Regions from separate parts of the Homo sapiens genome. Here region 1 is linked to region 2. Evidence: fine-mapped expression QTL. Tissue or cell type: whole blood. Region 2 holds a variant in brackets; the other region holds the start of a gene. All regions are shown on one strand. Distances are from middle to middle.

Region 1 (8,144 bases), 31 kb after region 2:
ATGGTAAAAAAAGAAATTGACTCAAAGGATACCATGGAGATCTCAGTAGGCTGAGATGAATAGGAAAACCTGCCAAACTGCTAGGTTTTTCAAAATGGCAATTCTCCTCTAATCTCCAGACTCACCCACTCCAATGATATGTCTATTTTTGAGACACTTTTTAATATTACTGCTACACAATTATTGCAGAGAAAGCAGACCTTTTTCTAAAAGATCCAAAAAACAAACAAAAAAAACAAAACAAAAAAGATTTCCTTTCAGAACAGTTCTTTGCCAACACAGCTGACCATGAAACTGCAGGCACCTGGAGTACTGATGATTAATTAGTGTTAGTCGTTCCTCCTGTGGTCATGTGAAGAAGGTAAAGTGCCTGTGAGAGAACAGGGAAGGACAATCTGAAAGTTAGGAGGACAATGGGGACACAATGGGGTCACAAAGTCTGGGGAAGAGAGAAGCTGAAGAAAGAGGTAATGGACCACAGTGTTGGGCACTACAGAGGTCCAGTAGGATTGGGACTGAAAGGAACCATCTGATTCAGAAGGTGGGAGGTCCTGGCAAAAACATCCTGGGGATGGCTGGGCGTGGTGGCTCATGCCCGTAATCCCAGCACTTTGGGAGGCCAAGGCGGGTGGATCACCTGAGGTCAGGAGTTCAAGACCAGCTTTGCCAACATGGTGAAACCCTGTCTCTACAAAATATACAAAAGTTAGCCAGGCGTGGTGGCAGGCACCTGTAATCCCAGCTACTCGGGAGGCTGAGGCAGGAGAATCGCTTGAACCCAGGAGTCAGTGGTTGCAGTGAGCCGAGATTGTGCCATTGCACTCCAGCCTGGGCGGCAGAGTGAGACTCTGTCTCAAAAAAAAAAAGCATAGACCTAAATGTAAGAACCAAAACTATGAAGCTTCTAGAAGAAATTATAGGAGAAAATCTTAGTGACTTTGTGTTAGGCAAAGATTTCATAATCAGTATCAATATCTGGTTTGTGGAAAAAAGATTTCTTAAATAGGCAAATTCCATGAACTATGAAAGAAAAAAATACACTGAACTTCATAAAAATTAAAACCTTTTGTCTATTCATTTATTGCCATATATAAGCCACATGACGTTTCTCCTTGCTCCAGCCTGGATACAGGAAACCCTTATACGGTTGTCTATCCCAGCAGCTATCATATGCCAGGCTTCTATTTGTGTCCTACAGACTGTACATCCCTCAAGGGCAGAAAACATACCTTGCAAATGTCCTCACTGCCTAACATGTTGATAATTGCAAAGCCCAGGCATAACTGCACAGTTCCACATCTGATTAGGATGCTTAGGTCACATTACTTTCAATTAAAAAAGACTAAAAAGTTGGTAAACAATCAAATGCTCAAAAATCAGGCAATGATGGTAAATTGTGATATATATTGATAGCATATTACAGCAAATCAAATGTTTTCAAAGAACTTTTGGTTATTGGGTATATGGTCATGATGGAAATTGAAAGATATGAAATACAGAAGACACTGTTTAGAAATAGACCAAAATACACACAGGATTTTGGAACACGGTAAAAGTAGCAATTCATTTCGGGGGAGAGATGGCTTATACTCATTGGAAAGAGCCTTTCCTTTCTTTTAATGCCTAGCCACAGACCACTGACTCCACGACTGGGGGAAATGTGGAGCCCTGGGGGCAGAGAGCAAGCCTGCCCTCTGTCCCTCTGCCCCTGTGCCCCTCTGCCCACGTGGGCACGCAGCCTTAGTTAAGACCCCAATAAGTGGTAGGCTCTCTAAAATGTGTTCACAACCTTTAAAGCAGTCATTCTATTTTAGGAAGACACTGTAAGAAAATAATCCTAAAGAGAAAAATATGTATCAATTGTAGAAGGACATCTATAAGCTGCTCCATTTATTTATTTATTTATTATTTATTATTATTATTTTTGAAGCAGAGTCTCGTTCTGTCGCTCAGACTGGAGTGCAATGGTGCGATCTCGGCTCACTGCAACCTCTACCTCCAGGGTTCAAGCGATTCTCTTGCCTCAGCTTCCCGAGTAGCTGGGATTACAGGCACCCGCCACCACGCCGGGCTAATTTTTTGTATTTTTAGTAGAGACAGGGTTTCTCTATGTTAGCCAGGCTGGTCTCGAACTCCTGACTTGTGATCCGCCCGCCTTGTCCTCCCAAAGTGCTGGGATTACAAACGTGAGCCACCGCGCCCGGCCAGGTGTTCCATTTATAAAGCAAAATACAAAAATGAAATGGCTAGGGGCACGAGGCCGCCTGGTGGGTGAGAGCAGCGGCCATGGATGGCTTTGCGCAGACCAACAAACAGCTAAATTATAGAGGAACTACATATTGAAATGTAAATTCACGCATGAGGTCTGTATTAATATTGAAAATGCCTAAATAAAAATAATCTTTTTTTTCTGAGCCTGGGGGTGGGGGAGTGGAGTGGCGTGGGGGAGTTGGGGTGGAGGGGGAAAGGGTCTTTCTATGTCGCCCACTGGTGTCAAACTCCTGGGTTCAAGCAATCCTCCCGCCTCAGCTTCGGAAGCAGCTGGGAATACAGGCGCGCGCATCAAGCCCGGTTAAATAAAATCTGTTTCCCCCAGTTAAAAAAAAATTAATTTGTGTGGGTACATAGGTGTATATATTTCTGGGGTATATGGGATATTTTGATACAGGCATACACTGTATAATAATCACATCAGGGTAAATGAGGTATCCGTTACCTCAAGCATTTATCCTTTGTGTTACAATATAATCTTAAAGGGAAAAAAAGAGCAGCACAGGTAGTACTGACTGCAGCTGTACAGAAACAATGCGTGCCATAAATATTCATTTGAAAGAGAGGGGTTATGATTATTTACAATCATTAGCGAATGTAGCAACATTCTGGGCACTGACAAGAAAACTGCCACAAACATGCAGGCATAATGCACAATAAGCAAGTCCAAGCTGTGGTCGGGGCTCCCTCGCGTCCCTGTAAGCTCTGAATTTAGAATGGGGTGGACCGCCTGCTGATCAAGGGTTCTGAAAGGCCGGCGGCTAATGGACCGCCAGGGGGCGCTCCACGCACGTCTCCACGTCCCCGGGCGCACCTCGCAGCCGCGCCCGCTCGCTGCCAGGCCGCTCCCTCCGTCCCTCACCCGCCCCGACTCGCTTCCGTCCCGTCCGACGCTAGGGGGCGCCGCAGGCTGCCTGGCGCGCTGCTCGCGGCCTCGGAGGGCCGGGGCTGGGTGGCAGCGGCCATGGACCGCTTCGTTTGGACCAGCGGCCTCCTGGAGATCAACGAGACCCTGGTGATCCAGCAGCGCGGGGTGCGAATCTACGATGGCGAGGAGAAGGTAGGGCGTCTGCCAACCTTCCCAACGGGCTGGCGGAAGGGACCCCCGGTGGGCGCGCGGCCCGGCTCAGCGCGGCCCGGGTCGGCGCGGCCCGGTCCCCGGCTTAGCTCACGGCCCTCGGCGGCCCGGCAGGCCTCTGTGCGGGGTGCAGCGCTCTTGCGCTCCCCGCCGGTCGGTAGCACGTGGCGTGGGGCGCTCGGCTGCCTCCCCAGCGCGGGTCCCAACTTTGGCACGGTTCCCAGCAGGCGCGGATCGCGGCCGCTTCCCTCCGCCCGGAATGCTTCCGGGAGCGCACAGCTGCAGTGCCCGGGAGAAGGAGCGCTCGCCGTCTGCGGGCGCCGGGCGGCGATCCGGCAGTCGACTTCCTTGGCGTGGTTCCAGACCCCCTGACGACACCAACCTCGGCGTCGGCACCGGACAGCCCCGTTTCGCCTTTCTGTGAGGAGGGCGCGGTGGCCGTACAGTCCGTGCCCCAGCGGAAGCTTTAGCTTGGACCTTATGCAGTCGGAGGGATTAGCATATCTGGGCAGAGGGGTGAGGGATTGCTTCGAAAGGATTTCCTAAAGAGGTATCAGTGCTTCATTGGAATGCCCTTGCCAAAGGCTATTGGGTTTTTGTTTTGTTTTCTAATTGCTTTAGAAAGGCGTTCTGAGCGTGTTTTGTAAAGTGTTATATTAATAGTAGACCGTGCCTTGTAGTGCAAGCATAAATCTTAGAAGGTGCGTTTGCAAATCGAGAGGAGAAATAGGAAGTGTAAGTAAATATTTTGTAGATACTTTACTGAAACTATGAAATATCTTGTCCTGGATTGAAATGGATAAACTGGAATTAGAAAAATTTTAAAACTCATTTACCCACAAGCATTTTTGGTTTCCAGAAGTTTTAATTTGCTACCTCTCTTCCCTTGCCGTTTTATTAACGACACTTTCCGCTGTACTTTGATATAAGTTCCTCAACTCAGCTTTTCCTGGTAAGTGCTTACAGCTATTTAGAGGCACAGGTGACATTGGACCCAGGTCCTCTGACTCTCTTAGGGCATTTTCTATGGGCTGTGTTGCCTGTATTAGTGAGTAAAGGTCTTTTCCTTAAATAATTTGCTTGGACCTAACTTCACTTACTGCCTTAGCACTTCTTAATTTAATTAATTAATTTATTTATTTTGAGACAGAGTCTCGCTCTATCGCCAGGCTGGAGTGCAGTGGCGCGATCTGGGCTCACTGCAACCTCCGCCTCCCAGATTCAAGATCCTGCCTCAGCCTCCTGAGTAACTGGGATTACAGGCGCCTGCAACCATGCCCGGCTAATTTTTGCATATTTAGTAGAGACGGGGTTTCACCACATTGGCCAGGCTGGTCTCTAACTCCTGACCTCAAATGATCCGCCCGCCTGGGCCTCCCAAACAGCTGGGATTACAGGCTCTTGAGCCACTGTGCCCAGCCTGCCTTGGCACTTTAACTATCTTGATCTCAAGATGAGTCTTCCATCCCCGGATTGGAGTGACAAGCTATTTTTTTCTCCTTTCTTACCAATTTACATCTTTGTGACTATTTAAAATGGGAAGGTTAATCCACCTCCCCTTCCTCGGTGTTTTGATTTTGCCTCCCCTTTGAGAGGAACCGAATGTTGACAGTGTTAGATCTGTCCTCAGAGACTCCTCCAGTGCCACTCCCTGAGGGAGCACTAGGAAGTCATGCTTTTGCAGAGCATGGCATGATACTGTTCTATGGAACTCCAATTTGAAGACTAGGAACACCTTTGCTGGCAGGCAGTATAGCTGTGATAGATTTAAAACAGTGTAAAATAACAACCATTAGTAGTTTTATATGAAAGATACATTGTTGAAGCAGCAAGTTTTAATTTTTACTTTAAAATTTTTGCTGCTTGTATTAGCAGACAAGTATATAGATGTCAGAGGTTTAAGAAACAAATCATGGGGAAAACATTGCTTTAGACCCTGTGATCTAGTCCAGAATTAACTCTTCTAAAAGCTTGAAATTGGAGTGGAGCTCTAAGAGGAGTCTCCTTACCACTGTGCCCCAAAGCTGGACTTAGTGACTTGCTGAGCTGCCTTGCAGCTATGCGGTCCCTAGGCTGAATGGGGCACAGGCTGACTCCTGGGGGAAGGTGCGGTATCCTGGCTTCCTTCATCTTTTGGAAGGTTTCCAGACCTCCTGTGGTGCTAGAGACTTTACAAGGTTACACACATTAGCCCCCAAATCTGGTGAAATTAGTCTCCCTTTTAGGATGCCTCACTGGCTCCTTTGGCCTAGGGACTGCAGTCCAGATTGCTTAATATTCATAGTTTTGCATCCCAACCCATTCCCTGGGCAAGCATGTGCATGGCTGTCTTCTAGACTAGTCTGATGTTTCTGGAGCACAGAAGGTGTGCCTTGCTCATCCTTGTATCTCCTAGCTGGTTGTGGGTGTGAAACACATTTTTTTTAAACCCGAATAATTAAAGTACTATGAGCCAAGAGCTGTATATATCATCTCATTTAATCCTCTCATCAGAATATGAGGTATTTTACTGAATGAGAAAGTAACGCCAAGAGATACAGTGACTTGCCTAAGATCCACAGAGAGAAGATTTAAATCTCTGTTGATCAGACTCAAAGCCTGTGCTTTGTTCATGGAGCTACAGTGAGCCGAGATTGTGCCACTGCACTCCAGCCTAGGCAACAGAGCGAGATTCTGTCTCAAAAAAAAAAAAAAATGACTTCATAATGTAGCAGTCACCGGTGTCACCCTTGATATAATGTTTAATACAGCTAATCTTCCCAAAGATGGGGAACTGAGACCCCACAGGTGATAGCTGAGAAAACTGTGAGCTGTCTAAGGTCACACAACTAGTAACTGGTAGAGCTAGAATTGCAAACCAGATCCAATGGACTGCTCTTCCCACGCCCAAGTGCCTCTTATGAATACATGCAGACTCGCTTGTTTATACAGGCACAGTTTTCATGGGCTCATTATGACTAGATAATGTGTTACTTTCATAAGCAGTGTAGACAGGTCATTTGTTTGACTTCACAGACACTTCTGTAGCCTCAGCCAATTTAAAAAATAATGTAAGGTTAGTAATGTGTAAAGTGGCAAGTTGGCAGCATATATCAGAAGATTTAGAAAATTGTTTATTCTTTTTCAGCTAACTCACTTTTAGGAATTTACCCTTGGGAAATAATCAGAAATGCATAAAAATATTACATATGAGAATGCTCATCTCAGCATTATTATGTATTACATATAATATTATTATATATGGAAAAATTGGAAGCAATCTGAATGTCCACCATAGGGATTGGTTAATTAAATTATGGCATGGGGCCAGGCGTGGTGGCTCATGCCTGTAATCCCAGCACTTTGAGAGGCTGAGGCGGGTAGATCCTCTGAGGTCAGGAGTTTAAGACCAGCCTGGCCAACATGGTAAAACCCCGTCTCTACTAAAAATACAAAAAATTAGCTGGGCGTGGTGGCGGGTGCCTGTAATCCCAGCTACTTGGGAGGCTGAGGCAGGAGAATGGCTTGAACCCGGATGGCAGAGGTTGCTGTGAGCCCAGATCGCACCATCGCACTCCAGCCTGGGCAACAAGAAACTCCATCTCAAAAAAAAAAAAAAAAATTATGGCATGCCCTAATTAGCATGAGGAATTGCCAATGATAGGCTGCTAACTATATTTTCTAACTATACTATTAATAATAGTTATAAACCTATCATTCTATTTAAAGGTTATATATGTATACATAAACATCTGTGTATATATACATACACACTCTGGCTGGTATGAGTTATTATTTCATTTTCTTTTTCAGGCTCTAAATATTTTCGAGATTTTCAACACTGAACATGTATGACTTTTATAACAGAAAAAATGTAAATTAAAAAAAAAAGCAGGTTAAGAACTTTTCAGTGAGTGCTGAAGTTAGATCAATTTTTAAGCAGTTAAAATTATTCTAGGTTCTGAGTGGTGTAAGCAAACCAGCCTAAACTTGACTATCAGGTTTAGATCTTAATCCACTGGAATCCTGAAAGGGAACTGTTACACAATTTCTTCACTTAGAGCAGCAACATTTTACATTTGCACATTGTTAATTGAGGTAGCAGTGGAACATAGGCTGGCTCCAGCCTTAAATTAACATGTATGTGCTTGGATTTCAGTAAGATAACATACGAAGTTTCTTAATCAGAACTATATGTTCTATAATGCAGCATTATGTACTTTTTTTTTTTTTTTTCAGACGGAATCTCGCTCTGTTGCTCAGTCTGGAGTGCGGTGGTGCGATCTTGGCTCACCGCAACCTCTGCTTCCCGGGTTCAAGCGTTTCTCCTACCTCAGCCTCCCCAGTAGCTGGGATTACAGGCGCCCGCCACCACGCCCGGCAATTTTTTTTTTTATTTTTTATTTTTTATTTTTAGTAGAGACGGGGTTTCACCATGTTGGTCAGGCTGGTCTTGAACTCCTGACCTCTTGATCTGCCTGCCTCGGCCTCCCAAAGTGCTGGGATTACAGGCGTGAGCCAAGGTGCCCGGCCTTTTTTTTTTTTTTTTTTTTTTTTTTTTTGAGATAGAGTCTTTCTCTGTCGCCCAGGCTGGAGTGCAGTGGCGCGATCTCCGCTCACTGCAAGCTCCGCCTCCCGGGTTCACGCCATTCTCCTGCCTCCGCCTCCCAAGTAGCTGGGACTACAGGCACCCGCTACCACACCCGGCTATTTTTTTTTTGTATTTTTAGTAGAGACGGGGTTTCACCGTGTTAGTCAGGATGGTCTTGATCTCCTGACCTCGTGATCCGCCCGCCTAGGCCTCCCAAAGTGCTGG
Region 2 (8,198 bases):
GATGTAAATATAGATATATCTGAAAATATATTACTTTGTGACAGTTATTTTTAAGCTTTATACAAATGGATATCGTGCTGAAGTGGTATTTACCTTGAAGCACACTGTGATCATGACATATTTTGATGTTCACTTCCCATGTTTAGGTTCCTGCTTCTCCACGCCAATGACATGGTGAGAGAATACAGGGGGAGCTGAAGACAAACAACATAAACTTATGTTTGCAAAGCACCTTTTACTCTGTGAAATAAAGTGAGTGCAAGCAGTAAATGGAACAACAAGCTTTCAGAGTCACTGCAGGGCAAGAGCTGGGGAAGGAAGAGCTGGCTGGTCAGGGAGGATGCACTGGAGAGAAAAACCATCACTCAATTGGCTAGGACATTCCAGGACATCAGGGAGACCACACAACAGCCAGAGTGTCTCTTCTCCTCCAAATGAACGCAACACCTCTCCAGCAAGGGCACAGAACTGGGCTGAGGCTGAGTATTGCTGAGGCAATACCGTTTAGAACATAGGCACGGGTAAGGATTTCATGACAAAAACACCAAAAGCAATTGCAACCAAAGCAAAAATTGATAAATGGGATCTAATTGAACCTAAGAGCTTCTGCATAGCAAAAGAAACTATCATCGGAGTGAACAGACAGCATACAGAATGGGAGAAAATTTTTGCAATCTGTCTGTCTGACAAAGGCCTAATATCCAGAATCTATAAGGAACTTAAACAAATTTACAAGAAAAAAAACAACCCCATTAAAAAGTAGGCAAAGAACATAAACACACACTTCTCAAAAGAAGGCATTCATGTGGCCAACAAACATATGGAAAAAAAAAGCTTAACATCACTGATCTTTAGAGAAAGGCAAATCAAAACCACAATGAGATATCATCTCATGCCAGTCAGAATGGCAATTATTAAGAAGTCCAGAAACAACAGATACTGGCAAGGTTGCAGAGAAAAAGGAAAGCTTTTACACTGTCGATGGGAATGTAAATTAGTTCAACCCTTGTGGAAGACAGTATGGCAATTCCTCAAAGATCTAAAGGCAGGAATAGCATTTGACGCAGCAATCCCATTACTGGATATATACCCAAAGGAATATAAATCATTCTGTTATAAATATACATGCACCTGTATGTTTATTGCAACACTATTCACAATAGCAAAGACATGGAATCAACCCAAATGCCTATGAATGATAAACTGGATAAAGACAATGTGGTACACATACACCATGGAATACTATGCAGCCATAAAAGGGAAGGAGATCATGTCCTTTGTAGGGACACAGATGGAGCTGGAAGCTGTTATCTTCAGCAAACTAATAGAGGAACAGAAAACAAAACAACACATGTTCTCACTTATAAGTGGGCGCTGAATGATGAGATCACATGGACACATGGCAGGGAAGAAAACACACTGAGGCCTGTTGCGGGGAGGGCCTGATGGGGGGAGGGAGAGCATCAGGAAGAACAGATAATGGATGCTGGGCTTAATACCAAGGTGATGGGTTGATCTGTGCAGCAAACCACCATGGCACACATTTACCAATGTAACAAAACTGCACATCCTGCACATGTACTCCAGAACTTAAAATAAAAGTTGAAGGAAACAAAAACAAAAATGAGGCCGGACGTGGGAGCTCACCCCTGTAATCCCAGCACATTAGGAGACCAAGGTGGATTGTTCACGAGGTCAGGAGTTTGAGACCAGCCTGACCAACATGGTGAAACCCCATCTCTACTAAAAATACAAAAATTAGCCAAGTGCGGTGGGGGGCACCTGTAATCCCAGCTACTCAGGAGGCTGAGGCAGGAGAATCACTTGAACCTGGGAGGTGGAGGTTGCAGTGAGCCAAGATGGCGCCATTGCACTCCAGCCTGGGTGACAGAGCAAGACTTCATCTCAAAACAAAACAAAAAACAAAAATAAAAAACCCTTTATAAATATTTGTTAAATTGGTAGGATTGTTAGCATAATTTACAAAAATTTTATTCACATTATACTATAACATATCTAAATAACATTCGTGTTAACAAATATCAACGGTTCTTTGATTTAAAAGTGGTGAAAAACAAGCTAATCATAAGTTTTATATACACCCATATATTTTCCAATAGCATGACACTGTCCAGATATTTAGAAATAGGCTATCCGGAAAAGAAAGAACTTGCTGAACTCCAGAAAATATAAAGTAGATACAATTCAAGGTTTTTGAACCTTGGAAAAGGAAGGGTAATTTTCTATAAATAATTTTTTCACAACTGTGTTTCTTATATTCATACCCGGGTATCTTAATTGGTGTATTACCAATTTGCTTCGCTAGATAGAGATATGAGGCCCAAGAACTACAAATTTCTTCAAAAATGAAGCATAGCTCTTGATATTTTGAAAAACATAATTTATTTATAGAAGAGAAACTACAGCCTGTAAGACATCTTCTTAAGGGAGACGATCTTCCATGTAATAAATTGTTGGCCCCAGGGAGAAACGTTTGCTGGGATTGATGGTGAGTAGTTTACTAGTTAATATTTCATCAGTGTACTGAGTAGATTTTTTCATTTATTCGCCCACATATATATATATATATATATATATATATATATATATATATATATATATTTTTTTTTTTTTTTTTTTTTTTTTTTTTTTGAGACGGAGTCTCGCTCTGTCTCCCAGGCTAGAGTACAGTGGCGCGATCTCTGCTCACTGCAAACTCCGCCTCCTGGGTTCACGCCATTCTCCTACCTCAGGCTCCCCAGTAGCTGGGACTACGGGTGCCCGCCACCACGCTCGGCTAATTTTTTTTTTTTTTTTTGTATTTTTTAGCAGAGACGGGGTTTCACCATGTTAGCCAGGATGGTCTCGATCTTCCGACCTCGTGATCCGCCTGCCTCGGCCTCCTAAAGTGCTAGATTACAAGCGTGAGCCACCGTGCCCGGCCAACAATTCTTAATTAATGAAAATACGCCTATGTGTAAGGGGCCCTGGACAATTACTCATCATGAGCCCTTCTTTTTTAAGTCTTTCACAGATCGTCGCAGTAAACAAAACTGTAAGACAAATTAGATAAAGAAACATGCCCATCCGCTCTGAAAGCTTGGTTAAACCAATTTTGAAGACTAAATTGTAACTTTAGACCAGTTTGCCATCCAAAGGTTTCTCTTTCTAGTTTCAGTTTCCTCTAAGCCAGGAAGAAGTTTCAGGAGATTCACAGGTTATGTAAATGAGTAAAGCAAGATAATAGGGAGTGTTAGAAACTCTGGAAAACTGGATTGCATCAGCCCCGTCAAAAAAGAATTCAAATTAAAATGTTTTGTCCAAAATTCACGTGTGGGCCTGAGTCAGTGCTCAGGTAACCAGACATCAGCCTTTGTTTTTTAAAAAGTTAGTATACCTAACTGAATGAAGTTTACATTAACTGGAATCCAGAGCTGTTTTATACAGCTCTTTGCTCAACTTCTCTTACTAAATTCCTAGATGTTTATTCAGAATTGACCTCTCTCCTGCTTCATCATCTAGCAACCGTACTAACACCATACATAGCTTGCTGCTGTCAGCAGAAAGGTACTATTAAGGGATATGGCTAGCTGCTCTTAGGAACTCATTAAAGCTATAGAGGAACTGCAGTCATGCAACATTCATCCAACAGGTATTTATAGAGCACCTACTCTGAGCATAACGAAATATCACAAAG[C/G]CATCTAGGGCAGGTTTTTCCATTTGTCCACCCCTGTTGTACCAAAAGGATTTGGATTTAGCAAATCAAGGCGTCAGTTTCCTTTCTTAGTCCTTTGGATAAACTGGTGCCTTTCATTTACCAGGAGCAAAACATTTTTTCCTTGTTATTTATAACTAAAATCACAGCAAATCTGCTTCTCATCTTGTATTTCTGAAATTGCTATAAAGTTATTCTGAACACTATACAAGTCAGTTCAGCCGATATATGTGGAGTGCAGGTACTCTACTCAACCATATGTGGAGAGTCAAAAGGCCTTTGGCCCTTATGGAGTTTATGACCTAAAATGACCACTTAGGGCTGGACGTGGTGGCTCACGCCTATAATCCCAGAACTTTGGGAGGCTGAGGCAGGAGGATTGCTTGAGCCCAGGAGTTTGTCACCAGCCCAGACAACATAGTGAGATTTCAATGCTACTAAACATTTAAAAATTACCCAGACATGGTGGCGCATGCCTGCAGTCAGGGGGCTGAGGCAGGAGGACTGTCAGCCCAGTAGTTCAAGGTTGCAGTGAGTTACGGTCAAGCCACTACATTCCAGGATGGATGACAGAATGAGACCGTGTCTCTAAAAAATATAAAAATAAAAATAATAAAATGACTGCCTACAACTCCGGTACACATTAAATGAATATACAAAATTATAATTGCACAAAAAACACAGAGCTTATTTTAGGATGGTAAAGTTTATAAATTGGTTGCCAAAGCAGAGTATGGCTGATACTTTAGTTCCACTTTTCTGTTTAATCTCAGAACTCAGGTTATTCCTCTCCTCATTTTAGTTAAGGAAACTGAAGCCTGAAGGATTAAACGCCTCATAAAGTCCATAGAGGCCAAGAGACAATAACTCGGGCTTCTTGGTGGGTGACAAGCTACACTCTGCCACCACACTTAGATGGCATCTCCCTTTCTGCACTGAATAGCAACCGCCCAATCCTGGGCCACCGAGAAAGTGTCTTAGGAACATGTTAAATGAGAATTTCATGTTAAATGTGAGGTAATGATGAAGAGTAGTATTTTTATTGTTCAACTTAATAAACCAGAATAAAAATTCTGTGCCAAGAAAAAAGTTCAAGAAGATGGTTAGAATGAAGTTTATTCCCTCCTGGGGCTCACAGATGCTTGAGGAAGAGAGACATGTGAAAACCAATTCCTGCAAATGCAATCAGTGCTGTAATGAGGTACTTGTAGGAGAGGACACAGAGGAAGCTTCTGTTTCTGCCTGGGGATATCAGGGAAGACCTGAGTAGGAGCTCACCAGATAGACAAAGCATGGAACAGCATCTCTGCATTGGGAACAGCATGTACAAAGTACACTGGGAACAGCATGTACAGAGGAGATAAGAACGAGTGTGGCTTCTTTAAAGAATTATAAGTAGTCCATACCATATGCAGAATATTTGTGTCAGGGTAAAAGATGTGACAGATCTTGAAGGGCCTTCCATACTGTGCCAAGAAGTTTGGATGATTTCTGCAGACAGCTGAGAATCACAAAAATGGGGACTCTTTAAGGGGAGAAGCATGAACAGGTTGGCATTTTTAAATGAACGCTCTGGCTGCCACGTGTGGGATGAATTAGAGGAAGGCAAGACAAGGAGGCAAGGGAATTTTAGAAAATTAATGAAACAGGACAAGCAAGAAATGATAAGGCGGTGCAATGGGTATAGAGCGAGCCAGGATAACACGGACAGTTTGATGTCCTACTGCTTCAGAGTGCTGGTGAAAGGAAGAAGTTCAAGGTGACTCTTAAGTTTCTGACTTGGGGAATCAGTTGTGTGTTGGTGCTTAACCTAAATACAGAGCAGTTTGGGGAGGAAAAAAGTGTGTTGGGATTCAACATGGGAGGGCCATTTCAATGATGGAAGGAGCAAAGTCAAGAGCTGGAAATATATGCTTGAGAATTCTCATCTTGTGGATGGTATTCGAATCCCCAAGTGTAGATAAGCTTGTCTGGAAAAGCATAGAGTAGGAAGAGAAAGATAACAAGGACAACACCAGAATGGCCAATATTTAAGAGTAAGAAGAAAAGAAGCTGGCAAAGGGAAATAAGAAAGTGGTATGAAAACAGGAGGAACCCAAGAGAGAGTGTGGTCATGGAAGTTCACAGAAGCAAGTGTCAAGTGTCCCTGAGAAGTCAAGGAGGACATGGAAAAGGACACAATGAATCTGGAGATAAGAAAATGCATTTATTTGTCCAAGTCAGTGAATATGCATGAAGCACCCATTAGGTGCATCTCCTATTCAAGGCACTGGGGATAAAGCAGTGAACAAAATAGAAAATAAAAATCCTGGCCGGGCGCGGTGGCTCACGCCTGTAATCTCAGCACTTTGGGAGACCGAGGCGGGCAGATCATGAGTTCAAGAGATCGAGACCATCCTGGATAACACGGTGAAACCACGTCTCTGCTAAAAATACCCAAAATTAGCCGGGTATGGTGGTGGGTGCCTGTAGTCCCAGCTACTCAGGAGGCTGAGGCAGGAGAATGGCGTGAACCCGGGAGGCAGAGCTTGCAGTGAGCCGAGATCATGCCACTGCACTCCAACCTGGGCCACAGAGCAAGATTGCATATCAAAAAAAGAAAAAGGAATGAAAATCCCTGCCCTCTAGGATTAGATTCTAGTCGGGAACACAGACAATGAGCAAATAAATACGTGAATATTTAATTGAATAAGTGCTCTGAGGAAAAATAAATCAGGTAAGGAGGATATGGAATTAGGGTTGGGAGAGGTATGAATCTAATGTAATAGAGTGATAAAAGGTTTCAGTGAGCAAGTGCAAAGGCCATGTAATTAAACTGATTTTTCTGGAATGTGTTTCAATCTAGGGAAAGCAAAAGCTAGACTGCAATTAATTGAAGAGTGAATGGAAAAGAGGAAGAAAATTGCTAATAAAAGAGGAGCAATGGAGTAGATAACTTCTCCTTCTCCAAGAAGCTTGATGCTAAAGGGAAAGCATGAGTTCCTAAGCACAGGTAGAAGAGGTAAAGAAAAAGTAGGAAAAAAAGGCTTAGAAACAGATAGGTGTGTAGGTTGGAGGATACAAAGCCAGGATGTGAAGTTGCACAGTCTCTCAGAGGCCATCTTTCACTCTTGTCCGTGAGAATATTGCTCCCTAGAGTTGTGAAACAGGTGTTACCAACTCACCCCCTACACTGACTCCATCTTTGCTATAAATTGGAAAGAAAGAACATCTATTCTCAATAGAGCAAGTACAGGCATATCATGGTGGTTTTGACTGGTTGGGATACAGACAATAAACAAACACATATGTAGAATTTATCAAAAAAGCTAATGTCACAATGCAAAGGGAAGTTGAATCTAGGAATAAACAAAATGTTGGCCACATAGCATTGGAAGCTCAGAGGATGGTGGGCCACTCATGGGGCCCTTTACTTACACTGTCTCATTTAGTGTTACCAACAGTCCTGTGGCCGGGTGCGGTGGCTCACGCCTGTAATCCCAGCACTTCGGGAGGCCGAGACGGACAAGAATGGTGGTTTAGAGTTCAGTCCTGTTTCCCCTTACCTGAGGTCCACTTGACAGTGGTTGGCATTTTTATCTGGTATGGATCTGGGTTTCCAAAAAATTCAGCGTCAAGATGTTCTTTCATTACTATAGGAAACGAAACATTTTTTTCCTTATTCCAGGATGTTCAATTTACTTTTTTGAGGCTAGCTAGGTAGCTACCTGGAATTTCCCTTGAAGAGACTCAAGATTTTTCCTTTATTACTATACACGGGAAGATCCAAGCGGGCCCTTAAGAGGGGTCCCTGTTATGTCTCTACTGGATGCTTATGCACGGTATCACATCATTTAGCTTGGAACAAACCTAGGGGAGAGATAACATAGCTGTCCTTAAGCACCAGAAAAGGGGTTAGACCTCTGGTTGAATGTTAGAACTAGGAATATTTAGAGACAGATTTTCCCCTCAGGTAAAGGAGGAAAAAAAACACTCTTAAAAACTTGTCCAAACATAAAAGTTGTATCTTGAGTTCTCTAACAGAGGCATTTCAAACTCTGCTATACAGACAAATGAATTATATGGTACAGATATTAAAAAGCTGAGAGTGTATCAAAGCTTAAATTTTATTTCAAAATGGCATATTTTGGGTCAAAGTATGAAAAAACAAGGGCATAGTTATGTTTTTGTTAAAGTGAAAAAAATTAGGTAAAGTTTATGTAAGTAGACTGATGACTTTTGAAAATATATCATTAAGCATGTACTTAAGTGTCAAAAACCTCAAGTCAAATCTTACAATGTATTTCAAAAGCAAAGCTAAAATTCATTCACTGTGGTTAAACTGCATTTCATAAAATATCTGTTGAAATAAACTTCATTAAAACATAATTACACAGATATTTTAATTGTATATATATCAGGTACACGGAATAAAAGTCCTACTCTCTAGAACATGAGAAGTCAATAAATAGAAAAGATATACAAAGTGGAATGAACATAAAAA

Evidence for each region. PIP is the estimated chance that this variant, and not a neighbour inherited with it, causes the effect.
Region 1: VPS36 starts here. The variant in region 2 is fine-mapped to the expression of VPS36 in whole blood (INTERVAL, PIP above 0.99).

The regions. Positions count from the first base shown.
Region 1 is chr13:52,445,686-52,453,829 of GRCh38, reverse strand. It overlaps VPS36 (vacuolar protein sorting 36 homolog), which reads left to right and starts at 3,196. Exons shown (of 14, transcript NM_016075.4): 1 at 3,196-3,331. The coding sequence starts at 3,236. RefSeq lists silencers at 2,950-3,009, 3,050-3,509 and an enhancer at 3,030-3,610.
Region 2 is chr13:52,476,233-52,484,430 of GRCh38, reverse strand. It overlaps CKAP2 (cytoskeleton associated protein 2), which reads right to left. Exons shown (of 9, transcript NM_018204.5): 9 at 7,804-8,198. LINC00345 (long intergenic non-protein coding RNA 345) reads left to right here. Exons shown (of 3, transcript NR_184203.1): 3 at 147-1,949. Among named protein-coding and RNA genes, the nearest start is that of CKAP2, 25 kb to the right of the region's middle. The variant C/G (reference allele first, on the strand shown) is at 3,698.